Linked DNA regions of Homo sapiens: region 2 is linked to region 1. The links come from fine-mapping of genetic effects on plasma protein levels. A gene starts in region 1. The other region holds a variant in brackets. All regions are shown on one strand. Distances are between the middles of the regions.

Region 1 (14,944 bases):
TGAGAAATTGGAGATGTTTCTAAATGACACAGGTCTGTATGAGTCCCTGGAAGATGGGCAAGATTCCATGCTTCTGTTCACAGTTTAATGAACTATTTATTTATCACCTACTGTATGCTAAGCAAGGGGCTAGGGACTGAAATACCAAGGGAACAAGACATATTTCTGCCCTCAAAGAGCCCGGGACCTACTGGGGGAAGCAGATCCAGGAGTAGATACTGAGGGCCCTGAAAGAACAGGGTGCTTGAGGCTGTGGAACCATAGACAAAGGACACCTGACCCAGGGGGATGTCCGGGAAGGCCTCCTGGAGGAGGTGACTCCTGAGCTCAGTCTAGAAAGAGGGGAGAGTGGCAGGAAGGGATCCCAGGCAGAAGAGGCAGCTTAAGTCATAAAAAGGGTGTGTGCACTGGCAGGGCCTGCCCGGGAACTGTGGGCATGTGCAGAATGGGGTAAAACAAGCGTGGGAAGGTCAGCAGGGTCTCGCAGTCCATGGCAAAGGAGCCATGGCAGGATTTCGAGCAGAATCAGACCTGCTGGTGATGGACCCACCTAGATGGGCGGGGTCTGTGAGGAGCTGTTGATAGCTGCTGCAGTCTCCCAGGAGAGCCAGGAGGACGCGATGCCTCAGGATGCCCAGGAGCCTGGAGATGCTCTGAGATGGAAGGCTTGAGCCCCAGGGAGTGTTCCCCAGAGCCCCCTCGTGCCCCACATGCCTGTGGGCCAGCATCCCGTCACTACCCAGGTGTGTGGCTTGCAGGGGTGACGGACCGTTCCCAAATCCTCAAGAACGTCCGCAACGCCATCCGGGGCAGGTTCCCGCTCTACAACCTGGGTTTCGGCCACAATGTGGACTTTAACTTTCTGGAGGTCATGTCCATGGAGAACAACGGACGGGCCCAGAGAATCTACGAGGACCATGATGCCACCCAGCAGCTGCAGGTCTCCCCTCACAACCCCCTGTACCTCCAATGGCATGCCATAGGGAGCCCTGCCTTGGTGGCCGTTTGCCCATCAGCCTAGAGGAGCAGATAAAGCTCTGGCATAGAGTTCAAATCAGCTGCATGGGCCAGGCATGGTGGCTCAAGCCTGTAATCCCAGCACTTTGGGAGGCCAAGGTGGGTGGATCGGGAGTTCGAGACCAGCCTGGCCAACATGGTGAAACCCCGTCTCTACTGAAGATACAAAAATTAGCCAGGTGTGGTGGTGGATGCCTGTAATCTCAGCTACCTGGGAGGCTGAGGCAGGAGAATCACTTGAGCCCAGGAGGTGGAGGTTGCAATGAGCTGAGATTGTGCCACTGCACTCCAGCCTGGGCAACACAGTGAGACTCTGTCTCAGAAAAAAAAAAAAAAATCAGCAGCATGACCTCGAGCCAGCTACTTGACCTCTCGGACCCTCAAATTCCTTCTCTAACTTGGGAATTCCCAACACTCCACTTTGTGGGCAGGCTTCCCATTAGGAGCCCAGGGTGCTCAGCTCTAAGGCTGCAACCTCTATCCCTGCAGGGTTTCTACAGCCAGGTAGCCAAACCCCTGCTGGTGGATGTGGATTTGCAGTACCCCCAGGATGCTGTCTTGGCCCTGACCCAGAACCACCATAAACAGTACTACGAAGGCTCAGAGATTGTGGTGGCCGGGCGCATTGCTGACAACAAACAGAGCAGCTTCAAGGCTGATGTGCAGGCCCATGGGGTAAATGGTGGGCCATGGAGGGTGGAGAGGCCAGGCAGCACCCTAGAGGCTCCAAACCCACACTGTTCCCCATTCCTGCCATCCCCCAGAGGCCTCTCTTTCCCCAGAGTAGTACCCTCATCCCCACCATGCCACATACACCCCAGGCCTGAACATCCCTCCACACAGGCATCCTGGGGGCTGGATTGGCTGGAATGGGGCCAATATGGCCTTTATCAGTTGCAGTCCCTCGGCCCCCAGTGACCAATTGTTATTTTTCGCATCATTCATCCCAAGGTGCAAGAGAGCAAGAGACCAACCTCTCCCTTCTCATTTGATAACCATTTCCTGAACACCTACTGTGTGCCAGGCTTTGTGCCATGGTGCAGTGCATGCATGTATGTGCACCTGTGTGTGGTGGGGACAGGCATGTGAGACCTGGATCCTGCCCTCCAGGACACAGACAACGCCCTAAGTGTGGTCGAAGGTTCAGAACTCAGGCTTTGAGTAAGGAGAGTTGAGCTGGACCTTGGCTCCATCCTGACCAGCTGGGCATCCTTGGGCAAGGGGTCCAGTTCCCTAGGCCTCAGTTTCCTTTTCTGTACCATACTGCATCAGAGCATTGTGTGGAGTAAATGGAATAATCCATATAATACCCTTAGGCAGCAGCTGGTGCATAGGATGCCCTTGGGAAGTGGTGCCCCGGTTAATGTAGCTGGATGGAGGAGGCACATTTGTGTGCCGTGGCAAGTTGAATGGTGCAGCCCACCTAGAATTTGGTGGGCATTTGGAGTGGGTCATAGTGGAAACAGCCGGGTGCTTATTGGCCTCCCCTAGAGAAACTCCACAAGGCAGGGCCTGGTTCTCCCATTCCATGGGATCCCTAGGGTCCAGGCCAAGCCTGGCTTGCAGAGGGTGCTTGGCAAGAATCAACGAATAGGATGAGGCGAACAGGCTCAGGGAAGCAGGTGATGCTGAGGACGAAGCTGCAGATACCAGACGAAATGGGCCCCTCAGAGCCCCTAGCACCAGCCAGGGGCCGTGCTTATCATGGTGCACCACCCCTCTCTGTACCTCAACTCTCAGGAGGGACAAGAATTCAGTATAACCTGCCTAGTGGATGAGGAGGAGATGAAGAAACTGCTCCGAGAGCGTGGCCACATGCTGGAGAACCACGTCGAGCGCCTCTGGGCCTACCTCACCATCCAGGAGCTGCTGGCCAAGCGGTAGGGCACCTGCAGCTGCCCCAGGTGGGCACTGCCCACCCCAGAGTCCCCCCACCCCTTGGAGGTGAGCAGAGGAGGGGTGGTTCTGGGGCAAGTAGGTCAGATTTACTTTCCTCTTCTGCTTTGCTCACTGAGTTAATATCAACCAGTCAGTCAACAGTCCGGGCAGGCCCACCAGGGCACAAGGCAGCCTGCTATTTACCCACACTCAGCACACAGAGGCTCAGCGAGGTTAGACCTCTTGACCCAGATCTCACAGCTGTTAACGTCTCTGCGTATCTCTGAGGCATGCCCCTCAACCCCACCGAATCTCCAAGTGATCTCTGTAAGAGATCATTAAACCTGGAGGCCCCTGAGGATGTAGCCACTGCATAGGACACCATGGGGGCTTAATACTTATGTGTCGAATGAATGAATGAATGAATGAATGAATGAATAAGTGAATGGATAGGTGAAAGGATGAGGGCCGTGCAAGTCGGGGCTTGGAGCCAGCCTCTGTCTTGAATGCAGGATGAAGGTGGACAGGGAGGAGAGGGCCAACCTGTCATCCCAGGCCCTGCAGATGTCGCTGGACTATGGGTTTGTGACCCCACTGACCTCCATGAGCATCAGGGGCATGGCGGACCAGGACGGCCTGAAGCCCACCATCGACAAGCCCTCAGAGGGTATAGGCTGCAGGGGTCTACAGAAGGGAGAGGCCATGGGCCAAAAACCTCTGGGGCTCTAATTATTTTCTCTTTCTCTCCCTTCCAGATTCTCCGCCTTTGGGTGAGTTTTAAATTGCATTAGTTTCAGTTCTGGGCTTCGGTAGCTGGGCAGGTGGCAGGTGCTCCAGCCCCAGGCTCGCAGCTCCCCATCCCCATTCTTCCCTGACTCCACTCCTTCCCGTTCTTCCGTCCCCTGAGCCGCCCTTCTCCACATCACCGCGAACTCCCTGCTGCGCTTTGTGAGCTTTTGTGCAGGCTGAACCCCCAGCAGCCTCCACTGGTCCCCTCTTGGTGTGAGTGTATGTCTGTGAGGAGGCAGGACCCCAGGGGAGGGCTGAGACCCCCAGAGGGACGGCTGGGCCCAGGCCTGTTGTGGACAGAGCTGCATGCCTTTCGTGTGGGGCACCGTGGGTGACACTGTCTTCGATAATATGTCCTTGTCTTCTACAGAGATGCTGGGACCCAGAAGGAGTAAGTGGCAGCCATCCTGGCCATTCACATCTCTACCCCTCCTTGATGATCACCCCGTTGGCTTTCTTCCTCCGTTCTAGCTGTCTTCACTGCTTGTCACTGGGAATCTTTAGAACAGACCTCTGAACAGCCTGGCCTCCCCAGCCTGAGGTCCCTGGGGGAGGAGACAGAGAGGGGGCCAGCTAAACATGCCAGGCCAAGCTTCTGTCCCCGTGTCCCGGGAGCCAATCAAGGGCATGTGATGTTGAGTGGACATCCCTGCTTGGTGGCCTCAGGCCAGCCCCACCAGTGAGGAAAGAGTCATCAGAGGGATCAGCAGCTCCAGGGAAGGCCTGGCTGCCCCGCTTCTAAATGCCACTCCCCCTCCCATCAGCGTTCGTGCTGTCAGCCTTGCAGCCTTCTCCTACTCATTCCAGCTCCAATACCCAGCGGCTGCCAGACCGAGTGACCGGCGGTGAGTCCTTGGAAGGGTCTGAGGGACACCCCTGTTTGGGACCCACCCTATCTGGCTGTCTCTCTCTCTCTGTCTCTCTCTGGGACCTGCCTAGCTGAACCCCAACCCCTGGCCAGCCCCATCTGCCCGATGTCCAATCTAACGAATTCCATGCTGTGCCCCCAGTGGACACAGACCCTCACTTCATCATCCACGTGCCCCAGAAAGAGGACACCCTGTGCTTCAACATCAATGAGGAGCCTGGTGTTATCCTGAGCCTGGTACAGGACCCCAACACAGGTATGGCGGGCATCACACCTCTGCCAGACAGGGCCAGGGCTCCTCTGCCCTCAACATTCAGCCAGGAACAGGACTATGGCCAAGGCCCTCACTGCCCTCTGCCTGGGCACCATCCACCTGGCTGGGCTCTGCCCGCTGCCTTCCCACGCCATCCTCCTGGCTGCACCTACACAGGGCCAGCTTTATCAGCATGTGACTGGGGTAGGCACACAGGGGCTTTTTTTTTTTTTTCTGAGACAGAGTCTTGCTCTGTTGCCCAGGCTGGAGTACAGTGGCGTTATCTCAGCTCACTGCAACCTCTGCCTCCTGGGTTCAAGTGATTCTCCTGCCTCAGCCTCCCAAGTAGCTGGGACTACAGGCGCATGCCACCATGACTGGTTTATTTTTGTATTTTTAGTAGAGATGGGGTTTCACCATGTTGGCCTGGTTGGTCTCAAACTCCTGACCTCAGGTGATCCGTCCACCTCGGCCTCCCAAAGTGCTGGGATTACAGGTGTGAGCCACCGTGCCCAGCCAGTTTAATGCTCTTCCGTTGCCGCCTTGAAACCCTTAACACTTTCTAAACAAGGGGCCCTTCCTTTTTATTTCATACTAGGTCCTGCAAATATGTCACAGTCCTGCCCCACCTTCCCCATGAAGCATGGCTGAGCAGAGCACCTCTCTCCCAGCAGTGCCTTGGTTATGGGGAACAGCTCCCTCTCCTTCTCTCACCCCTGCTCCCTCCTGTCTCCTTCCCTCCCTGTCCAGTTAGTCCATCTGCAAGTGTTTGTTGTGCACCAACGAGGGGCTGGGAATGCAGTGGGAGCCAAGATAGTCCCGCTTTCATAGAGTTTAGGGAAGGGGAAGACAAACAGGTGAACATTCTGAGATGATCATTTCAGAGCATGAGACGTGCTGGGTTGGCAGCGTGAGGGTGGGAAGGGGGCTTTGTGGCTGCCCAGGTCAGCGGAGACCTCTGTGAAGAGGTCCCACAATGCATTTCCAGCACAATGGGAGCCTGTCCCTGTGTGAGGGGCTGGGGCCACAGAGAAGGAGCAGGCTAGGTCCTGTTCTCGGGGAGGCACGACCTCCGTTAGGACCCAGAACTGAGAGCTGAGTATGGGATATTTGGCATGGCAGGAGGGGTGGAGAGGAAGGAGAGGTGGTGCTGTGTGCGGGACCAGACCTGGAGACCCTGAGGCAGGAGACTCTCAAAGACAGAGTGGCACAGGCAGGGCGTAGAGGCCTCTTAGGAAGGAGGCATGATCCTGCTAAGCAAAGGCAGGCAGGCCCCTTCCCAACCCGGATGCCCTCTTGCTCCATTGCAGGCTTCTCAGTGAATGGACAGCTCATTGGCAACAAGGCCAGGAGCCCTGGGCAGCATGACGGCACGTACTTCGGGCGGCTGGGAATCGCAAACCCTGCCACGGACTTTCAGTTGGAAGTGACTCCTCAGAACATTACGCTGAACCCCGGCTTTGGTGGGCCTGTGTTTTCCTGGAGGGACCAAGCTGTGCTGCGGCAGGACGGGTAACCTGCCAGGGCCTGGGCAAGATGCAGGGGGAGGTGTGGCCTGGGCCCAGGACTCTGCTGAGTCTGCAGGGCCCTCGTCCCTGAGCCATGTCTGTGGGTGACACCCATGTGGCCTGTGCAGACATGTCAGACTCCATGGCCCACCCAGCCCTCCATTTCCCTTGGTTACTGGATATGTCCTCTGGGCCCAGCTGCATGGCAACTGTGCTCCCACCGCACCTTAGCTCTGAATGCCACCCCTGTCTCTACCAAACAAAGCCAGCTCATCCTCCCAGGCCCAGCAAAGAGGCCACCTCTTCCCCTCAGCCCTCCTGCTCTCTTCCTCTGCTGAACTCCAGATTTCTCTGGGCTTCTCATTTGGCATGTCTTAGTCTGCATTGTCTCATGACTTTTCCTTCCTTTACTAATTCGTTCATTCATTCATTCATTCATTCAACAAACTGTGCCAAGCACCAGAGCAATGCTGGGCAGCAGAGCTATAGGAAGAGGTGGGGAGAGTCTGCTGTGGAGGTCACAGGTGATGAGTGGGAGTCACAGAACACGGACTCTGATATTAGACAGCCTGAAGTCCAAGTCCTGGCTCCACTGCTTACCAGCTGTGCTACCTTGGGCAAGTTACTTAACCTCTCTGAGCCTGGGACTTCACAGGCTCGGAGTGAGGATTGAATGATGCAGTTTGCACAGAGGGCTTAGCACAGGACCTGGCACATTGCAAGGGCCCCAAGCAACATGTGGGGAGGGGCGTGGAACAGGTAACAGCCGGCCATCTGGGGATGAAGGCCATGGGGTGGGGGCGTGGTCATAAGGGTTGGGTCCCAGATGACAAGGGCAGCTGAATGGAGAGGGATGCAGTGCAGCCGCACCTGCCCTCTCGGCCACCTGGCTCTGCAGGGTGGTGGTGACCATCAACAAGAAGAGGAACCTGGTGGTGTCTGTGGACGACGGTGGCACCTTTGAGGTTGTTTTGCACCGAGTGTGGAAGGGGAGCTCGGTCCACCAGGACTTCCTGGGCTTCTATGTGCTGGACAGTCATCGGATGTCAGCCCGGACGCACGGGCTGCTGGGTACGGCTGGCCAGGCTGGCAGGGCTGTGGGGAAGGGTGTTGAAGCCAGAGGACATGTGGGACCTGGGGCCACCGGTCAGTTCTATAGCTGGGCACCAGGACAGGCCCACCTCCAGTGTGGCCTCCAAGGAGCAGAGCCGTCTGAGGGGCTGTGTTGGTGAGGCTGTGAGCAAACACACAGTGAAACAAACGCTTAAGCGAGCCTGGGAGCAAGTGAGGGGCAGAGGTCTGATCGCAAAAAGAAAGGCCCAGAGGGTTCCCAGGAACCTTGTGAGTAGGGTGGGTCACTGACCACACTGCTCCTGTGTGGCCTTTCTACAGACACTGCTCTCTATGGGCACCTGCCCTCAAACCTCTCTCCCCAGACAGATCCCGTTTTAAAAGACAGGAGGTAGGACCACCTAGAAATGTATCTACTTCTCTATAGCAAGTGAACCAAAGGTAGCTTTTCATGCTGGGACTGTTAGCAGAAACAGTCAAGCCCTGGAAAAAAAGCGGTCCAGCAATGCTCTAACCCCGCAGTGAGCACCTGCTGAGTGCAGGGCAGGAGCAAGTCCCCGAGATGGTAACCGCTGTCTCCAATGTGCCTTTCTAGGGCAATTTTTCCACCCCATCGGTTTTGAAGTGTCTGACATCCACCCAGGCTCTGACCCCACAAAGCCAGATGCCACGATGGTGGTGAGGAACCGCCGGCTCACGGTCACCAGGTGGGTGGGCTGCTTGCCCAGCACGTCTGCCCTCGGCCACTTTGTAGTTCTTCCAGGTCTTCCTCCAGGTGTCACATGGGTGGGGTGAGCTTCCTGGGGAGGTGCTGCCCTACTGGTCCGAAGGGTGACCCCAGCTGACTTGTCTCTGCACAGGGGTTTGCAAAAAGACTACAGCAAGGACCCGTGGCATGGGGCCGAGGTGTCCTGCTGGTTCATTCACAACAATGGGGCTGGACTCATCGATGGTGCCTACACTGATTATATCGTCCCCGACATCTTCTGAGCCCTCTGGCCAGCACGCCTGTCCTCCCCCGGGGCCAAGGCAGAGGAGGAGGACGACATCCTGACCTGCTGCTGAGGCTGTACCTCCTTGACTAAGCTGGTTCCTTGTGTCAAAGCACCTCATGCCTTCCATTAAAGAGAGGCCGTGTCCACCCTGAGCTGGCTGATTTTGGGGAGGGAGGATGGCAGGGAGGCAGCCCAAGATGCTGCCCCTCAGATGGACTAAGGGGTTACAACAGACCCAGGGAGAGGAGAAGCAGGTCAGAGGCTGGGAAGAAAGCTCACACCATTTCCCTGCTGAGGGTTTGTAACGTCTGGCAGCCAGGCTGGTATTTTCCAAAGGCAGAGATGGTCCCTGCCCAGAAGCTGTGATTTCAGGGGGCCAGGAGTGGCACCCTACCATCTCCTCATGTGAATGCCTGGAATTACCCCATCAGGGTCCCCTCCCTTGGCTTGACCTTGGGGCCCAGTCAAAACACAATGTCACAGGTGCAGGGAGGTGAGCCACACGTCAGAGAGCTCTGTGTGTGAATGCGCACAGGCCTCCACCCACTGCTTTCCAGAGGCTTTCTGCTTTTTCTTGCTAGTTTCTGTCCAGTTTCCACTATAAATGAGGCTCACAAGGGACCAGACAGAACAAGGACTGGTTTTGAGGGCCTGGATCAATAACACCAATGCTGAGCTCAAAGGCTGCCCCAGGCCCTATGAACACAGAGCCCCTAGCGGCAGGCTGTGGGGCGGCCAGCCCACCTTCCCAGGTATCCTGGGGTTCTCCAGGAAGAGCTGTGAGCTGCCAGCTGTCGGGGTCACCCTTGGCAAGGCCTGCCCAATGGGGGCCTCATCTCCCTCTCCTGTAGAATGGAAAGGCGGTGAACCCAAAGATCTCTTAGATTCCGTCTAATTATAAAGTCTGCATGACGACTCTGGTTCCTCCAAGTCCCCAGCCATCCCTTGAGGCTGCTTGAGCAGCTACAGAATCCCTATTTCGAGTTGTCCGTCTCCCCAAACTCCAGGCACTTGGGGATGAGGCAGTGGTCCAGATGAGAGAGTACAGGAGAAGCTCTGCAGGCAGCTGCAGGTCCGTGAGGAGGAGCCATTGGGCAACAGTGCCAGCCACCCAGTGCCAGCAGCCACAGGACTGAAAACATCCCAGAAGCCAGGAAATGAGGACACGGCAGCTCTGAGGGGTCTTCTCTCCACACCCAGGCGCCAGCACCTGCTGGGTTTGGCCTCCATCAGGCCCGAGCTTGGTGCCTGCTGCCAGTGAGGTTGGTGTAAGGGTTCAGGAGGCCCGAGGGAAACAGGCACCGCCCAGCCAGACACCAAGCACAGGCAGCATCTGCCACTTGGCCATCATTTCACTGGCTTGGAAACTCCCTCTTTTCAATTTTTTTTTTTTTTTTTGAGACGGGGGTCTCGCCCTGTCATCCGGGCTGGAGCGCAGTGGCACGAACACAGCGCTCACTGCAGCCTCGAACTCCTGGGCCCAGGTGATCCTCCAGCTTCAGTCTCCCAAAAAGCTGGGATTACAGGCAAGAGCCATAGTGCCTGGCTGATTTGGCAACTCTCCATCATTGCTCTGTGGCTGCTGCCTCTTCCAGCCATTAGACCACACCCTCCTCAGGGCTTCCGCTGCCCCGTGGCATCTGCCTTTTGCCTTCTTGGTTCCTCTGCTCCCAACAACTCTCTCTGCACATCTCCCAGTCAGCACCAGAGCTTTCAGCTGAGGCCGCTGAACTCCCCATAAGTTAGTTGTCCTGGACCCAGCCGTCCTTGTCGACTCCATTCAGTAGTGGGCTGCCCAGTGGGAGGGTCACAGGGTCAGCTTGGCTCAGAGAAGCCATGGGTATGGTGGGTGTGCAACAGCTGCCCTGATGGGGCTAGGCTGGCAGGGTCCTGAGGTGGCTCAGGAGGTCCCAGCCCCCACTGAGACCAGGTCCTGCCTCTAAAGCTCCTGTTGTCCTGGAAGCTGGAGCCCAGCCTCACTACGACTTTTAGGGCAATGACTCCCCAAAAGGCTGAGGGCAGCCAAGTCCCTGGCTGGGCCCTGGAAGCACAGAGGGAAACATGACATGGTCCAGCCCCCAGGAGCTCTGGGTGCAGAGGGGGCAGGCAGACCTGAGCACATCCACCTCAACATAAGGTCATGACAAAGCAGGCCCTCAGGGGGCTTGGGGCTTGGAGCAGGGATGTCCCATAGTCCTCTAGGGGATGGCCAGGGAAGGGTCCTGGAGGGGAGGCACTGGGACTGGCAGAGAGATGAAAGATGTGACATGTGCAGAAGGGGAGGGTGTGCTGGTGCAAGAGAGTGAGCTCAGAAAAACAAGCTGGGGTCAGATCACAGAGACAGCTGGGCTTCCGGGATCGTTGTGTGTCCTTTCCCTGGGGCTTTGGGGGCCATAGAAGGGTAGTGAGCGAGGGGCTCTGCTGTGGAGGTCCCAGCCTGAAGGTGACAGTCTAGTTTCACGCCCTGGCTGCCTCAAGAAGGGAGGGGCTGCAATCCAGGAGGCCAGAGAGAGGCTGTCCCAGTGGTAGGGATAAGAGGCAACAATGCTGAGATGCCCTTTGCCCTAAATGCAACTCCACACCCCATCTCCATCATCCACGCCAGGGAGTCCCAGGGTCCATTTGTTGGCCCACAGCTTCTGCTTTCCTGCGGGCCTCTTCCGAGTCCCCCGGTCTCTCAGGAATGAAGCCCCAACGCTGTTGGCAAGACCCACCAGGCCTTCTTCAGACAGACACATCGAGGGACCCGTCATTCCACCCATGCCCAGCTTCCCGGAGGCCCTTCCTGCCTCCACTCCTCCCACCCCCGCTGCAGGTCACTGACCCTGCTTGGAAAACACCAGGCTTGCTCATATAAGGAGCGTGGGCCAGGCCTGAGTATTCAGCGATGGCATTTGCATGGTGGCCCTGTCTCATCTTGGCTCTGCTCTCCAGCTTGGCAGCCTCTGGCTTCCCGAGAAGCCCCTTTCGGCTGCTTGGGGTGAGTCTGCCCCCTCTTTGCCATCTGGGTCTTGGTGTGGAATGGGCAGAAGGCATCATGCTGGGCAAGGCCTCTGAGTGGAGTGAAGAGGAGGCAGAGGGCTGGGCACTGAGCTGCTGGGAGTAGTGTGGACACTGGGAGAACCGGGCTCCAGCTGAGGCCTATGCTAACCTGTTGTCTAACCCTGGGAAGGCTCTTAAAACTCCCTGGGCCTCAGCTTCCCCACCTGTCAAAAGAGCAATGCACCAGGAACTGCTCACTTCACTGAGGGGCAATGAAGGTTCAAGTCTCAAACGAGTGTGACCTCTACAAAATGCTCAGTTGAGCCCTGCGGGGTGTGGCGGGGGCAGGGGTGCTCTGGAAGGAGGCCTAAAGGGGCCTGGGGGCCAGGGAAAGGCAGAATGGGAGATAGAATGAGGTGGGGCATGTAGGGTGTGAAGAGAGCTCTGGGTTCAGTTCCCCCTGCCCTGCTCTCCTGGTAACCTGGATACCTGCCCCTCTCTGGACCTCAGTTTCCCCATCTATTCAGAGTTTTTCCTACTCTGACATGTGGCTCTGGAGGGTCCTATGTCTGGGGGCCACTCAGGTGTGTGGGGGGCAGGGCACCACTGAACCCCTGGTCTCAGCCCAGAGCCTCCCAGGCCATGCGGCCTTGGTGTTGGCCTTGGCCTGATTCCTGTGTTTGTGTTTGTTTTTGTTTTTTCAGAAACGGAGCCTCCCGGAAGGGGTAAGAACTTTCACCAGGGGGTGGGACCGAGTGGGGCAGGGCAGGATGGAGCTGGTTCCCCAACTGCTGAAGGTGTAGGCTATAACAGCTGACTCCTCACAGCTGGCAAACAGCTTACGGCCCTCTGCCCTGGCAGCCTCCAACAGCGCAGGACTCCTGGGAAAGAGCACCACAGAGTGACGACCCCTCCAACCTCGCAGGATGTAGCCCAAGAGGGCCCCTCACAGGCATCCCTTCCTTCCGCAGACACTTCCTTAGCACTTGCTGGTACCTGGCTCTGTGAAGCGGTCCCTGCCACACCCTCACGAAGCATCTTTATATCCCTAGGGGGAGGGGGCTGGAACACCTCCCTAGAGCCTCTCAAAATTCAACACCCCTATTGGAAAGAGGGTGTTTGGAGACTTCCCTTGGCACAGGAAATCAGTTCCTCTTTGGGAGACAGAATGAGGCAATTACCTAAAGACCCAGGAGGTGGGCTGGGCTGTGTGCTTGAGGGAGTGTGAGGTGTGGAGGATGAGCAGGAAGAGCCAGGGGCAGATGCTCCAGAGCCAGTGTCCCACGCATAGCTGGAGCTCAGGGTGACTGGACGGGAAAGGGCAAGCTCTCACTGGCTGCAGTGGTGTGTAAACGGATCGCAGAATTAAGGAGGCAGGACAAGCATCTGAATAATGGTGGCCACCAGAACATGGAGACTGGAGACGCCACCAAGTCTTCCAGTGTAGAAGACCTGGAGGATGAGGGTTGCGTGCCGGGCAGGGGCCTCAGAGCCTCCAAGGGTTTGCAAGGGAGGTGGCTGGGTTGCAAACCTGCTTCTCCAGTGTCCCAGTCTGGCTGATTCTCCACCCACCTCCCCAAAGGTGGCCAATGGCATCGAGGTCTACAGTACCAAAATCAACTCCAAGGTGACCTCCCGTTTTGCTCACAATGTTGTCACCATGAGAGCCGTCAACCGTGCAGACACGGCCAAGGAGGTTTCCTTTGATGTGGAGCTGCCCAAGACGGCCTTCATCACCAACTTCACCTTGTGGGTACCACCATGGCTGCTGGCTCTGGGCTCGGGAACAGGGGGTCTGGCCCAGTGTGATCTCCCTACCCCCAACTCTCTTTCCCTGCAGGACCATCGACGGTGTTACCTACCCTGGGAATGTCAAGGAGAAGGAAGTTGCCAAGAAGCAGTATGAAAAGGCTGTGTCCCAGGGCAAGACGGCCGGCTTGGTCAAGTAAGTATGGACTCCCAGGCCTTGGGGAGAATGTCTGGGATCCAAGGGCCTTCAGGGCTACAAACAACAACAACAGCTATTATTATTGGTATAGCAAAATGTGCCCATAATTTTGCCATTATCCCACGTTGAGGCTGAGGCAAGTGAGGCTCAGAATGGTTAGGGATCTCCCTCGCCAAAGGGCTGGGCCTGGGGCCGAGGGCCGAGGAAGGGTGGGCTCCTGCAGTCTTTGAGGGAGTCACCATCTCGCACCCTGGTCAGGGCCTCTGGGAGGAAGTTGGAGAAGTTCACAGTCTCGGTCAACGTGGCTGCAGGCAGCAAAGTCACCTTCGAGCTAACCTACGAGGAGCTGCTGAAGAGGCACAAGGGCAAGTACGAGATGTACCTCAAGGTCCAGCCTAAGCAACTGGTCAAACACTTTGAGGTAATCAACCGCCCCTGCAGACCTGGGGGGACGGCAGCGGGGTGCAGGAACCCGCCCATGGGGCAGTCTCAGACAGGGGTCAAAAACAAAAGTTCTGCCTCACGGCATCCCCCATCCTTGGCTGGGAAGGCTGGAGGAATTCAATGGTTCTGGCCAAAAGCATCTGGGGCCAAGGGGAAGAGGCTGGGATGGACTCCACAGATGCAGATTCGGTGCTGGGCCCTCAAGAGCAACACCAGCAAGTGCCTCTGTAAGGCTTCTCACTGGGCACATGGGCATTTTTCCTACCTCAAAGCTGAAAGCCAAAGGAAAAGCATCAGTGGTGGAATTTCGGGCGCATATGGCAGGCGGTGGTAACACCTCCCGATCAGCATACTCTCCTCCAAGCCCCTGTGGTCACTTTCGCAGTGGGAGACACCAGGCTTGGCCCTCAGCACTGTCCTAGAGGGTCCCTGCATCACCACAGACCCATCTCATTCCCATTGGCCTTGTTCTGGGAACTGGCCTCTGAGGTCACTGAGTGACATTTCCTTACTTTGGCCATTTCAGATCGAGGTAGACATCTTCGAGCCTCAGGGAATCAGCATGCTGGATGCTGAGGCCTCTTTCATCACCAACGACCTCCTGGGAAGCGCCCTCACCAAGTCCTTCTCAGGGAAAAAGGTGATGTAGATGCCTCTCAGACCTGGTGGGGCAGGGGACAGGAATACTGACTCCAGCAGAACAAGCCTGCAGCCTAGGGCTTAGCTGCTGCAAGCATGCATGTGTTGGGGTGGGGCTGGGGATCAATCTGCAACTATCACCTTCCTCCTTGCCCACTGGGGTTGGGAGTGAGGATGCTGAGGGCAGGGGCTGCTGACAATGACCTGCCAGAGGAGCCATTTACAAAGCCTGGTCCCGTTCCCCCTTGGGAAATGGACAGGGCAGGGCTTATCTTCCCTGTTTTACAGGTCCCGAGGCTGAAGCCCAAGGGAGTCATTTAGATCTACTGACTCCACAATGAGAGGTGAAAGACTAAAGAGAACTTCATTCTTGGTGCTAGGTGGTTGACTCCAGTCCCCAAGGCTCCCAGCTGTTCCAGGGGCCTTAATGGCAGTGGACAGTGGGTGAATAAATGTTTGTATAAACAACAAACCAATCATCCAGGACTTCCAGGGCGAGGCCCGAGGAGCACACACTCAGAGGACTGCTGGCTTCTGCAGGGCCACATCCTG
Region 2 (14,944 bases), 29 kb before region 1:
AGCCTGGGAAACAGAGCGAGACTCCGTCTCAAAAACAAAAGATGGTGTATTTAAGTTTGCAGTTTACATCCATCCCTAATTACTATCCAGATGGTGACTATCCATGCTTGATATTTGGTATTCCCATCTTTCACCTACTAGGTGATGCCACCTCAGATGAACTGGATGTGAAGAGCATTTGGAAAATGGAGGTGGAATCATAACCAAATTTGGCAAGTACTAACAATATGCAGGGAGAGTTTTCTACAAGATTGATACAAAAAGCCCCCTAAACCCAGAGGCTGCAATACTGTATGAGAAAGATGTTCAGCTTTTTAAGAGTAAAGTGGTTGACAGTGTTAAGGTATGTATTACTCGTCTGTCTGACCAATTTAAAATAGAAGACTCATGCAATTAGCTTTTCTCCATGGAATCCTTCTGTACATGATGAAGCCAGAGAAAAGATGCTGACTCAGAAAAGCCTGAAGAACAGCACAATAAGTGTACGTGTCGCCGGCCTGTCATAGGTAAAGCCTGGCTCAGTACAATCTTTCAGTAAAGAAGAGAAAACAGTAGCAACTTAAGAGATGGTGAATCTGGTACACCATGCACTTTCCTGCTGGACTCTGGACTAGTTCAAGCTGACCAATGGCAATGGACAGCTTGAAAAACAAAACTGTGGGCCGGGCACCGTGGCTCATGCCTGTAATCCTAGAACTTTGGGAGGCCAAGATGGGCGGATCACGAGGTCAGGAGATCCAGAACATCCTGGCTAACATGGTGAAACCCCGTCTCTACTAAAAATGCAAAAAAATTAGCCGGGCGCGGTGGCAGGCGCCTGTAGTCCCAGCTACTCGGGAGGCTGAGGCAGGAGAATGGCGTGAACCCGGGAGGCAGAGCTTGCAGTGAGCCAAGGTCGCACCACTGGACTCCAGCCTGGGCGACAGAGCAAGACTCCGTCTCAAAAAAAAAAAAAAGAAAAAAGAAAAACAAAACTTCTTAACAATGAAAAAAAAAAAAAGAAAGAAAGAAGCCAGAAACAGAAAGACAAATATTGTATGATTCCACTTACATAAAATATCTAGAACAGGCAAATCGGCAAATCCATAGACAAAAAGTAGATGAGAGCTTACCAGGGCCTGACGATACGGGGAATAGAAAATTATTGCTCAATGGGTACCAAGTTTCTGTTTGAAATGATGAAAAGGTTTTGGAAGATAGTGGTGATGGCTGCATGATACTGTGAATCTAATTAAGGACAATGAATTATATGCTTCATATGTACTATTAGACCACATTAACAGAATGAAGGAAAAAAAACACATGATCATCAACACCCTTATGTGATGATTTTCAGGGCTGTGAAAAAAAAACACCTTTTCATGATTAAAAAAAAATTCAACAAACTACGAATAGAAAAAAAAATTCATAACATAATAAAAGTCATATATGAAACACCCACAGTAAACATCACATTTAATGGTGAAAGACTGAAAGCTTTTCCTCTAAGATCAGGAACAAGGCAAGAATGCCTGTTTTCACCTCTTCTAGTCAATATAGTACTAGAAGTTCTAGCCAGAGCAATTAGGCAAGGAAAAAAAAAATAAAAGGCATCAAAATTAGAAAAGAAGAAGTAAAATTATCTCCTTTTGCAGATATGATCTTGTGTCTAGGAAACCCTAAAGATTCCACATACAGAAACTGTTGGAACTAATAAACGAACTGAGCAAGGTAGCAAGAGGCAAAGTCAACATACAAAAATCAGTTGCATTTCTATACACTAACAATAAACAATCTGAGAAGCAAATTACAAGAACAATTCAATTTACAATAGTATCAAAAATAATAAAATAATTAGGAATTAACCAAAAGGCGAAAGAAGGACTTACATAGTGAAATCTACAAAATGGTGCTGAAAGAAATTTAAAGAAGACATAAATAAATGGAAACACATCCCATGTTCATGGATTGAAAGACTTAACATTGTTCTTTCTTTTTTTCTCTTTTTACATTTGGGCATCTCCTTGAGAAAAGCTTAATATTGTCAATATATTAATATTACCCAGAGCAATCTACAGATTCAATCTAATCCCTATCAAAATCCCAATGACATTCTTTGGAAAAATAGAAAAATCCATCCTAAAATTCAGTGGAATCTCAAGGGATCCCAAATAGCCAAAACAATCTTGAAAAAGAAGAATAGAGATGGAGGACTCATGCCTCATGATTTTAAAACATACCACAAAACCACATTATCAAAACAGTGTAGTATTAGTATAAAAACAGACATTAGACATAGAAACCAATGGAACAGAATGGGGAACCCAGAAATAAACTTTCACATATGTGGTCGAATGATTTTTGACAAAGATGCCAAGATCATTTAATGAGGAAAGGACAGTTTTTTCAACAAATAGTGCTGAAAAAGCTAGATATCCATATACAGAATAATGAAGTCAGACCTTTACCTAACACCATATATAAAAATTAACTCAAAATGAACAAAAAACCTAAATGTAAGACCTAAAACTATAAAACTCTCAGAAGAAGACATAAGGCAAAGGCTTCACAACATTGGATTTGCCAACGATTTTCTGGATAGGACACCAAAGGCACAGGCAACACAAGAAAAAGACACACTGGATTTCACAAAAATTAAAAATTTTGTGCATCAAAAGATACTATCAACAGAGTAAAAAGGTAACCCACAAAATGAGAGAAAATATTTGCAAATCATATATGTGATAAGGAATTGACATCCTGAATATATGGAGAACTCCTAAAATCCAACAGCAAAAAATGAACGACCCAACTCAAAAATGGGCAAAGGATTTGAATAGACGCTCCTCCCAAAAAGATAGCAAACGGCCAATAAGCACACAAAAAATGCTCAATATAACTAATCACTAAGGAAATGCAAATCAAAACTACAATGAGATACCACCTCATGCCCATTAGGATGGCTATTACTAAAAAATCCCAGAAAATAACAAGTACTGGTGAGAATGTAGAGAAATTGGAACCTTTGTGTACTGCTGATAGGAATGTAAAATGATACAGAAGTTGTGGAAAACAGTACCACAGGTCCTCAAAAAGTTAGAATTACCATGTAGTCAGCAGTTCCACTTCTGGTTATATACCCAACAAAAGAGAAATCAGGGTCTTAGCTGGGAGCAGAGGCTCACGCCTGTAATTCTAGCACTTTGGGAGGCCAAGGCGGGTGGATTACCTGAGGTCAGGAGTTTGAGACCAGCCTGGCCAACATGGTGAAATCCCATCTCTACTAAAAATACAAAAATTAGCTGGGCATGATGGCACATGCCTGTAATCCCAGCTACTTGGGAGGCTGAGGCAGGAGAATCGCTTGAACCTGGGAGGTGGAGGTTACAGTGAGCCACGATTGTGCCACTGCGCTCCAACCTGGGTAACAGTGAGACTCCGTCTCAAAAAAAAAAAAAAAAAGAAAAAAGAAATCAGGGTCTCAAAGAGATAAGTGTACATTCATGTTCATAGCAGCGTTATTCACACTAGCAAAAAAGGTGGAAACAACACAAATGTACATCTGCAGATGAACCAGATAAACAAAACGTGGGATATACATGCAACAGAATACTATTCAGCATTAAAAAGGAAGGTAATTCTGACATATGTCACAACATGGATGAACCTTGAGGATATTATGTGAAACGAAATAAGGCAGTCATGAAAGACAAATAATGCAAGATCTCCTTATCTGAGGTACTTACACTAGTCAAAACCATGGAGACAGAAAGTAGAATGGTGGGCCAGGCACAGTGGCTCACACCTGTAATCTCAGCATTTTGGGAGGCCAAGGTGGGTGGATTGCCTGAGGTCAGGAGTTCAAGACCAGTCTGGCCAACGTGGTGAAACCCTGTCTCTACTAAAAATACAAAAAAAATTAGCCAGATGTTGTGGCGTGTACCTGTAATCCCAGCTATTCAGGGGGCTGAGGCAGGGGAATTGCTTGAACCAGGGAGGTGGAGGTTGCAGTGAGCCGAGATCATGCCACTGCACTCCAGCCTGGGTGACACAGCAAGACACCATCTCAAAAAAAAAAAAAAAAAAAAAAAAAGAAAGAAAGTAGAATGGTAGAACAGTGGTTGCCAGGGACTGGGGTAGTAGGGAATGGGGAGATACTGTTTAATGGTAACAGAGTTCAGTTTTACAATATGAGAGTTATGAAGATGAGGGGTGATGGCTGCATAACATTATAGATGTATTTAACACCACTAAATTGTACACTTACAAATGGTTAAAATAGTAAATTTTACATTATGTGTACTTTATCATAATGAAAAAATTAAAACTAAAAATTCGATCGACAACCTAAATATAAGAGCTAAAACTATAAAACTGTTAGAAGAAACTATGGCATAAACCTTCAAGACGTTGGATTTGGCAAGGGATTCTTAGCTATGACAACAAAATAAAAAAATAGATAAACTGGACTTCATCAAAATTAGAAGCTTTTGTGAAAAGGACATTATCAAGAAAGTGAAAAAACAAAAGAAATTTTTAAAAACAAAAAAAAAAATTTTAACTAAAAAAGGAAAGAAAAGACAACCTATACAATGGAGAAAATACTTGCAAGTTGTCTATCTGACAAGGGACTAGTATCTGGAACACAGATCGAGAACTCCTACAACTCAACAACAAAAAGACAAAAACACAATTTAAAACTGGGCAGGGGCTGGGTGATGTGGCTCATACCTGTAATATCAGCACTTTGGGAGGAAAACGCAGAAGAACTGTTCAAGACCAGCCTGAGCAACATAGTGAGACCCACCTCTACAAAAATAATCATAATAATTAGCCAGGTATGGTGGCGTGCACCTGTAGACACAGCTAATCGGAAGGCTGAGGTAGGAGGATCCCTTGAGTCAAGGAGTTCAGAGGCTGTAGTGAGCTATGATGATGCCACTATACTCCAGCCTACGTAACAGAGCAAGATCCTCTCTTAAAAAAAGAAAAAAGAAAAAAAAAAAAAAAGCCTGGGCACAGTGGCTCATGCCTGTAATTCCAGCACTTTGTTTGGGAAGCCAAGGTGGGAGGACCTCCTGAGCCCAGGAGTTTGAGACCAGCCTGGGCAACATAGTAAGACATTGTCTCTACAAATAAAAAAATTAGCCAGGCATGGTGGCATGCTGTGGTCCCAGCTACTCAGGAGGCTGAGGTGGGAGGATCACTTGATCCAGAGAGGTGGAGGCTAGATTGAGCCGTGATCGCAGCACTGCACTCCAGCCTAGGCAACAGAGCAAGACCCTGTATCAAAAAAAAAAAAGCAAAAGCTTTAGCAGATATTTCTCCAAAGAAGACATACAAATGGCCAACAAGCATGTGAAAAGATGCTGTATGTCATTAATCGTTAGGGAAATACAAATCAAAAATACAATAGGATACCACTTTACACCCACTAGGATGGCTAGAATCAAAAAATCAGAAAATAATTAGTGCCGGCAAAGATGTGGAGAAACTGGAACTCTTGTGCACTGCTGATGGGAATGTCAAATGGTGCAGCCACTGTAGAAAACAGTGCAACAGTTCCTCAAAAAGTCAAACCAAAAAAAAAGTCAAACCAAAAATTACCATTTGACTCAGCAATTCCACTGCTAGGTATGTACCCAAAAGAACGGAAAACAGGTACTCAACTACTTGCACACTTATGTTCATAGCAATAGCCAAAAGGTGAAAAAAACCCAGATGTCTACTAATGGATGAATGGATAAACAGTGGTATATCCACATAATGGTAGCCAGACCTAAAAAGAAATGAAGTATTCATACATGCTACATGGATGAACCTTGAAAATATGCTATGTGGAAGACACCAGAAACAAAAGGATATATTTAATGATTCTATTTACATGAAATATCCAGGACAGGTAACTTCATAGAGACAGGAAACACACTGGTGGTTGCCAGAGGCTGGGTGAAGGACAAAATGGGAGTGACTGCTTAATGAGGAAGAGATTTCCTTTGGGGTGATGAAAATGTTTTGGAACTACATAGAAGTGACGGTTGCACTACACTGTGAATGTACTGGCCACATTTAATTGATCACTTTATTTATTTATTTTATTTTATTTATTTTTATTTTTATTTTTGAGACAGTGTCTCATTCTGTCACCCAGGCTGGAGTGCAGTAGTGCAGTCTTGGCTCACTGCAACCTCCACCTCCCAGGTTCAAGCGATTCTCCTCCCTCAGCCTCCTGAGTAGCTATGACTACAGGTACATGCCACCACAGCCAGCTAATTTTTGTATTTTTAGTAGAGATGAGGGTTCACCATGTTGGCCAGGCTGGTCTTGAACTCCTGACCTCAGGTGATCTGCCAGCCTCGGCCTCCCAGAGTGCTGGGATTGCAGGCATGAGCCACCGCGCTCAGCCTTAACTGTTTACTTTAAAATGGTTAATTTTGTTATATAAATTTCACCTAAAAAATTCTTAAAGTTATTACAGCACTGACTTTGTGAACAATTTGACAGCCCAATTTGGATAAAGCTAAATCAATCACCTTAACCAGTATTCTTTCTTTACAGTAAGGAATTAATTGTACAACAGAATCTCTAGTAAAGCATAATCATTTCACACAAAATAATTTGCTTAGATGGCCCATTTTTCTAAGTGCAGTTTCTAAAACACATACCCTTTAAAAAGAAACGTACCATTATATATGTCTGGGAGCCCTCAGAAGAGAGTGGTTGGGGGTGGATTACTTCATGATTTGATTCTGCCTCTCCAGAAACCACTGTAGCAAAAGGCTTGGATTGAGAGTCACCATTTTTAATGTTATTTTTGGAGGTTTTTCTTTATAAAGAAGAAAAGAAAGAGTTATTATCAATATACTGAAGATTAAGGGTTTTTAGGTATATGTGGGAGTGTGTGTATACAATGAATTCCCTTACAGAACTGCACCATTTATAGAGAATAGTTTTCTAAAAATCTAAGGGGCATCCTACAAAACACCTCACCAGTAGTCTTTGAAACAATCAAGGTCATAAAAAATAAACAAAGTGAGAAACAATCACAGACCCCTGATTAGATGTACTATATCCTGGATTGGATCCTGGAACAGAAAAGAGACATTAGAGAAAAAAACTGGTGAAAGCCAAAGAAAGTCTGGAATTTAGTCAATAGTAATATTTTTCTTTCTTTTTTTAAAAAATTGAGACAGAGTTTCACTCTGTCATCCAGGCTAGAGTGTAGTGGCGTGATCTCAGCTCACTGCAACCTCCGCTGCCCAGGTTCAAGTGATTCTTGTGCCTCAGCCTCCCGAGTAGCTGGGACTACAGGTGCACGCCACCACGCCCGGCTAATTTTTTTGTATTTTTTTTTTAGTAGAGACGGGGTTTTGCCATGTTGGCCAGGCTGGTCTTAAACTCCTGACCTCAGGTGATCTGCCAGCCTCGGCCTCCCAAAGTGCTGGGATTACAGGCGTGAGCCACCATGCATGGCCAAGTCAATAGTAATATTTCGATGTTGGTTTCTTAGTTTTGACAAATGCATTAGGGTATGTAATCTGGTAATCACAGAAGAAACTAGATGAGGGGTATACAGGAACTCTCCACTCTATCTTTCCAACTTTTCTGTTTATACAAAATTATTCCAAAATAAAAATTCTATGGGAGATTGCCTCACATACGGGAGTATCAGGTTAATTTTCATTTTCAAATTTTACATGTCTGTAATAATACCACAACTGCTTGGCTAACTTTGAGAGTAAAACTGATTGGTACACTTAGTCCTGCTTATAGAATAAATGCATACAGGAATAACATCCCCAACTATTTTAGTATGTCATTTCTAAAACTGGGCTAAACCTCTGGAGAATTCAAGAGGAGCATGGAGATCAGTACACTGGAAGGCCAAAGGTCTGCTTGGTGGGAAATTATGTACACAAAAAGATGGTTCTTCTTTATTCCCTGAGGCATCTCTAGCACTGCCTCCTCTCTTTCCAAATTTAACATGCCACAAGGCAAGAGGAGAAGCCAAACAGATTGTAATAGTTTTGTCCAGCCCTAAGTCTTAGATCCTGGAACACCTGTTTAGTAAAGGTAGGATCTGCAAGCCAAAGCAAGGAATTCTCTTGGGAAGTTAATGTGAATGAAGAGGGAACTTTATGCAAGCTCTCAGAAATGTGAGCACTACTTTTTAAATATTACTATCTTACACAGTAAGATGTATAGGTTTCTCAGATAATCTCTAATTATATGATTTCTAAAACATATGCCCTCTTTTTTTTTATTATTATTTGGCTGCTCCTTGAGAACAGGACTAACTCATAGGCAGTGAGCCCAGAGTAGTGCATATGTCCTTTAAAAAAAAATTTACACTATATGTCTTAGAACCCTCTGAGGAATGTGACAGTGGTTCTCCAAATTTCTGATTTTAGCAATTAAGCAAATTTCAACATGTATTTGAAGACTGGGAGAATATGCCACGCCAAAATATGCTACTTTGGCATAAAGATTATTTTGGGCTAAGGTTCTTTAAAAAGTAAGTGCAAGCTTTGGGAGGCCGAGGTGGGCGGACCACGAGGTCGGGAGTTCAAGACCAGCCTGGCCAACATGGGGAAACCCTGTCTCTACTAAAACTACAAAAATTAGCCGGGCACGGTGGCGGGTGCCTGTAATCCCAGCTACTGGGGAGGCTGAGGCAGGAGAATTGCTTGAACCCGGGAGGCGGAGGTTGCAGTGAGCTGAGATCATGCCACTGCACTCCAGCCTGGGTGACACAGCAAGACTCCATCTCAAAAAAAAACAAACAAAAAAAAGTAAGTGCAAGAAGGGCACTCTGATCTTCCCTTTTTCTTCCAGAAAGCAGAAGATAAAACTCCCATATGAAATACGTCCTCCCTGTACCAGAAGGAAAGTAACATTCTTATTATCAAGAATGGAAAGCTGAAACTGAGAGAA[T/C]TCTATAAACAGACCTTATTAAAATAATTCTTATCTTCCTTTAGCCTCTCCACCTAGTTTACTTTTCCACAATTGCCTCTCTTTGTTCAATCAAGCAAAAAGCATTTAGGTTTTGCCACTTCTTTGTATTTTTAGTAGAAGTTAGGTCTTCATTTCCTTATGAGGGCTCCTGTGTCACATAAAACTTATTCAGGTATTAAAGAAATCTACATGCTTTTCTCCTGTTAAATTATAAGTTTAATTCTCAAGCTCAGCCAAGAAACCCTAAGAGGGTAGAATTTTGCCTCCTCTACATATGTAATCATGCCATTTTATTTCTTGTTTTTAAGAAAACTCACCATTAATTCTTGCATATGAATATTACAGAAGCCACCCTCTTTCACCCCATCTATTTAGCCCAGCTATTTGCAAGGGAAGTATCTTACATCTTTGTGGCCTCCAAAAAGAAGGAGATTTGCCGCTTTATATAAGGCTGCCTCAGGATGCTCCTCACAGACGGCCTTTCTTCAGGCCTTTTGCTCAGCATTGTTCTTATCAGTTCTGCCAGCTCTGGGCTGTAATCTCTTGGCATTGGTGGCAGCTACAAATAAAAATAATATTGTAATTATGACTAATGGTCTTGTGAAACAAAGTAAAAGCTGGTAGAGGTTTCCCAATATTTATTTATAGTCATATGTCCACATAAGCAGAAAACAATCAGTATATTAGTCTACAGGAAGTGTACTGGTATCCCAGTTGTAAGATAACAAGTTGTAAAATTATAAAAGTATATCCTCCAACCCAGCAGTCCCATCTGATGACACTCTCATTCAGAAATAAGAGTATGAGTTTCCTAAAGACTTATGTATCGGGATGTTCAATGCAGTACTGTTCTTGCAGTAGTAAACAATTGGAAACATAAATGTCCCTTAGGGGATTTGTGGAATAAATTATCATGCATTCTTCTTATAAAAACTAGGGCCAGTCGCAGTGGCTTACGCCTGTAATCCCAGCACTTTGGGAGGCCGAGGCAGGTGGATTGCCTGAGGTCAGGAGTTTGAGACCAGTCTGGCCAACATGGTGAAACCCCGTCTCTACTAAAAATACAAAAAAATTAGCTGGGCGTGGTGGCATGCACCTGTAATCCCAGTTACTCAGGAGGCTGAGGCAGGGGAATTGCTTGAACCAGAGAGGTGGAGGTTGCGGTGAGCCGAGATCACGCCACAGCACTCCAGCCTGGCAACAGAGCGAGACTCTGTCTCAAAAAAAAAAAAAAAGAAAGAAAAGAAACGAAACTAGGCAGCAGGTTAAAAAATACAAGACTTGGGCCGGGTGCAGTGGCTCACACCTGTAATCTCAGCACCTTGGGAGGCCGAGGCGGGTGGATCATGAGGTCAGGAGATGGAGACCATCCTGGCTAACACAGTGAAACCCCATCTCTACTAAAAATACAAAAAAGTGGACGGGCGTGGTGGCGGGCACCTGTAGTCCCAGCTACTTGGGAGGCCGAGGCAGGAGAATGGCGTGAACCCGAGAGGCAGAGGTTGCAGTGAGCTGAGATTGCACCACTGCACTCCAGTCTGGGCAACAGAGTGAGACTCTGTCTCAAAAAAAAAAAAACTTGCAGGTACCGACTTGGAAGGATGTGTTCCTCATATATTAAGTCAAAAAAACAAGTTATGTACCATGTGAACAGCCTGATTTCAGTTTAAGAATCTGTGGGTGTGCGCGTGCGCATGCACACACACACACATGCACACACACACACACACACACACACACAGAGTTATGTCTGTATAAAGACAGGAAAAAACCAGAAAGGCCATGTACCAATTTGCTAGCAATGGTCATCTTCCAGGGAATGGGAATAGAAAGAGAAGAGAATTTCACTCCCTTCTTGTTTGATTCTTAAGTAGTGGCATTATGGGAAAATTTTACTTTTGTGTGTGTTTTTCAATATGCTTCAAATTGAAAAATTAAATAAGTTGTGGGATAGTATTAAAATCAATAGATGATTTATGGCCTTTAAAACTTAACAGTACATTGGCCAGGTGCAGTGGCTCACACCTGTAATCCCAGCATTTTGGGAGGCTGAGGCGGGCGGATCACCTGAGGTAAGGAGTTCGAGACCATCCTGGCCAACATGGTGAAACCCCGTCTGTACTAAAAATACAAAAATTAGCTGGGCCTGGCAGCATGTGCCTGTAATCCCAGCTACTTGGTAAGCTAAGGCACAAGAATCACTTGAACCTAGGAGGTAGAGGTTGCTGTGAGCTGAGATCATGCCATTGCACTCCAGCCTGGGAGACAAGAGCAAAACTCCATCTCAAAAAAAAAAAAACAAAAAAAAAAACCTTAATGATACATGGATGCCTGAATCTATAAAGGGCAACTAGCCTCATGGAACATACAAAGCCAGTCACTCTGGAGTCTATATCAGACACAATGCTTTCTGTGATTCTTAACTAGTTACTGATTGTTGTGATGATTATCAAAGGAACGACAAGTTCAAACAGAGTAAACTCATTTTAAATGTAGCTCATTGAATCATAGGCTGCTTAGAAGAAGAGACAAATAGCCTCTCAGGGCATCGGCACATCCTATGACTATAGGCATAGGTTTTCAAAAAGCCAATTCTTTTGAGCCATTAAGCTGGCTTACAGATTAATATTAAGAAATGATCCATCAATCCCTTTTCCTCTAGTCTGACCTTCCCCACAGAAGGGACCCACCATTGTTAACTATCAACCCAATCTCAATAATTACTCATTGACTCATCAAAATCATCAATGATTTTGCTAGTAGCTATTTATAAAGCTGCACTATAGAAATACTGGTCAATTAGTTCTAGATTATTCTTTACCTTTCCTTCAATAATCCGATAAACTAAAGAATTCATATCTTTTGCATTGAAAGCATGCTTCAAGGTGGCCATTTCATAGACACAGCATCCTAGAGCCCAAACATCAGACTAGAAAATAAAAACAGTAAACGGTTAAATGTCAGAATAGCTTATTTACATTTTTTTCCCTTTAAAAAAAGAAAACATTTTCCTTAAACCAATTCATAGATAATTCTCTGACTTAATTAACTTCTGAAATTACAAGCACTCTCCCAGAGACAAGGTAAGCCAGCATACAGAGCCCAATCCTACCTTATAGTTGTAGGGTTTGTTTGAGAACAATTCAGGGCTCATGTAGTAGGGTGTGCCAATGAGGGTGCTAGCCATGTCACAGTGGTTCTCTAACACTCGGGCAATTCCTAGGTCCCCTACTTTGATGATGTTTGTTCTTGTTAGGAAGACATTTTGAGTTTTCAGATCTCGATGAAGGATGTGTTTTTCATGTAAATACTGAGGAAAGAAACAAGATTTTATTACATATAAATAGACTTAATTATGTATTTATTCCTGGCTTATTATATACCATCAGCAATGGCATGAGTTAGAGTCTTTGACCGTAAAGAGTAACCAACCATACAATTCCTTATTCAACAAGCAAATACCTACCAAACATTATTGCTTTATAATCTCTAAATAAAAGGTCTAATTTACAATTTTTGAAATGAGAAAATTAAGTTCCATGTGTTGACTTACCCAGTACCCATCAAAACTGTTCCCTGGTAGCTTGACAATTATACCATTTTGGCATTACATGAATCCAGTTTAAAAATATGTTTACAAGCCGGGCGCAGTGGCTCACGCCTGTAATCCCAGCACTTTGGGAGGCCGAGGCGGGTGGATCATGAGGTCAGGAGATCGAGACCATCCTGGCTAACAAGGTGAAACCCCGTCTCTACTAAAAATACAAAAAATTAGCCGGGCGCAGTGGCGGGCGCCTGTAGTCCCAGCTACTCGGGACGCTGAGGCAGGAGAATGGCGTGAACCCGGGAAGCGGAGCTTGCAGTGAGCCAAGATTGCGCCACTGCAGTCCGTAGTCCGGCCTGGGCGACAGAGCGAGACTCCGTCTCAAAAAAAAAAAAAATATGTTTACAGGCCAGGCGCAGTGTTCAGCAGTTTGGGAGGCCGAGGTGAGCGGATCACTTGAGGCCAGGAGTTCAAGACCAGCCTGGGCAACATGGCAAAACCCCATCTCTACTAAAAAAATACAAAAATTAGCTGGGCATGGTGACGCACGCCTATAATCCCAGCTACTTGGGAGGCTGAGGCACAAGAATCACTTGAACCCAGGAGGTGGAGGTTGGAATGAGCCACGATTGTGCCACTGCACTCGAATCTGGGCGACAGTGACACTCTGTCTTAAAAAAAAAACAATGCTTACAAACTCCACTGATGGTAGGACAACTTATACAAAGTCAGACGCACAGTCCTCTCAGACCCATGAAATCCTCAGCTTAATAATATTTTCAAGTACAGCAAGAGCATTTTTATTTAGAGAAAGTATCTCAGCCGGGCGTGGTGGCTCACGCCTATAATCCCAGCACTTTGGGAGGCCGAGGCAGGTGGATCACCTGAGGTCAAGAGTTCGAGACCAGCCTGGCCAACATGGTAAAACCCCATCTCTACTAAAAATACAAAAAAAAAAATTAGCCAGGTATGGTGGCAGGCGCCTGTAATCCCAGCTACTTGGGAGGCTGAGGCAGGAGAATCGCTTGAACCTGGGAGGTGGAGGTTGCAGTGAGCCGAGATCGTGCCATTGCACTCCAGCCTAGATAACAAAAACAAAACTCCGTCTCAAAAGAAAAAAAAAAAAAGAGAGAAAGTATCTCAGAATTTAAACATGGTCAATTAATTCTGGACAAGTCTACCCAGTTCCAAAATAGTATTTCATAAACGTCTCGCTTTTGAGTTATATGCATATTAAAACACAAACTTGTAGGAACACTTATTCCATCTTAAGGAATGATGTGCTGCCCAATTCTAAAAAATAAAAAAAAGAAAACTTGTTTTGCATTCCCATCTACTGTACCCCAGCAGACTGACAGATGAAATCACTGGGCATATCAATTAGCCTAGCCACCTTTCAGCATGACACGACTGACCAATGGATAACAAACATAGTCACTCTATGCTCTTGGTTGCCTCAGGGTCCTTAAAATTGACTTTGCTATAAATGGTAATTGAGTGGGCTTCCCCTGCAATCAGACATGAAATCTATGTCTATTTTAATATAGGTATCACTTACTTAGAAAAGTTCCAATGCTACAGAAAGAGTGACTGGGTCAACTTCACAAATGAATTTTCCAAAAAATACATTTCTATATGTAAGTATCTGAAGAAAAATTTTCCTAAAATACACCTGCCATCTTCTTGCCATCTGGGAACAAGCTAGGATGCTATTAGTCTACACAGTACCTGCAAAGCCATGGCGATCTGTACAAACCACTCTACCACCTGATTCTCAGGCAGAAGCTGCCCTTTCTGCTCCTTGAGCTTTCGGTACAAATCACCTCCTTCACAGAAGCCCATGACAATGTAGAGCAGACCATCTCCTCCTTCCCATGACTCCTTGTAGGTGACAATGTTGGGATGCTTCAACTGAGACAAGAGCTGGGCTTCCTGTTCAGCAGCTCGCCGCTCTCGGCTAGAGGCATTTCGGAGGTTCAGTTTTTTGATGACATACTAAAAACAAACCATGTATTTTTACAATGTGCAAATAAACGTAAGATTTGTGGCCTCAGAGTTATCTAAGGGCTCTCAAGAATACCCTCAAAACCAACCTTGTGGAGCCTGTCAGATAACCTATTCATTTTGTTTTTCACCAAGCACAAAATCGGGGAAAATATTTGCTATTATTGATACTTCTTATAAGTTAGATTTATAGCAGTGTAGGGCCACAAAAATTACCTTTCCCATCTGCATTTCACAATTTCATTAATGACTAAAAAAAGTGAGTTCAAGATAACATACCATTGGATCAATTATAAAACCTGTGTTAGCAATTCCTTAATATCTGGCCATACACAGTGGCTCACACCTGTAATCCCAGCACTTTGGGAGGGTGAGGCGGGTGGATCACCTGAGGTCAGGAGTTCAAGACCAGCCTGGTCAACATGGTGAAACCTGTCTCTACTAAAAATACAAAAATTAGCC

Which allele goes with the higher level. Alleles are on the strand shown, and positions count from the first base shown. The strength of an association depends on the size of the effect and on how common the allele is.
As copies of T replace C in region 2, the plasma level of the protein whose gene starts at base 11,259 in region 1 goes up (moderate association).

The links. PIP is the posterior inclusion probability: the model's chance that the variant is causal. Protein levels are from antibody-based Olink assays in UK Biobank. Linkage for the fine-mapping came from a reference panel and not from the study's own genotypes, which makes the PIPs less certain.
Region 2: its variant is fine-mapped to the plasma level of the ITIH3 protein (UK Biobank, PIP 0.99).

Annotation. Positions count from the first base shown.
Region 1 is chr3:52,783,538-52,798,481 of GRCh38, forward strand. ITIH3 (inter-alpha-trypsin inhibitor heavy chain 3) reads left to right here and starts at 11,259. Exons shown (of 22, transcript NM_002217.4): 1 at 11,259-11,359; 2 at 12,066-12,086; 3 at 12,944-13,110; 4 at 13,202-13,306; 5 at 13,568-13,730; 6 at 14,280-14,393. The coding sequence starts at 11,267. ITIH1 (inter-alpha-trypsin inhibitor heavy chain 1) reads left to right here. Exons shown (of 22, transcript NM_002215.4): 11 at 759-940; 12 at 1,507-1,692; 13 at 2,758-2,897; 14 at 3,408-3,562; 15 at 3,651-3,665; 16 at 4,055-4,075; 17 at 4,449-4,529; 18 at 4,695-4,808; 19 at 6,116-6,317; 20 at 7,212-7,384; 21 at 7,980-8,091; 22 at 8,245-8,525. The coding sequence ends at 8,374. RefSeq lists an enhancer at 10,857-11,746.
Region 2 is chr3:52,754,132-52,769,075 of GRCh38, forward strand. NEK4 (NIMA related kinase 4) reads right to left here. Exons shown (of 16, transcript NM_003157.6): 2 at 14,207-14,473; 3 at 12,047-12,244; 4 at 11,756-11,863; 5 at 9,339-9,493; 6 at 6,664-6,805. It also overlaps the pseudogene AKTIPP1. Among named protein-coding and RNA genes, the nearest start is that of NEK4, 9.3 kb to the right of the region's middle. The variant T/C (reference allele first, on the strand shown) is at 8,914.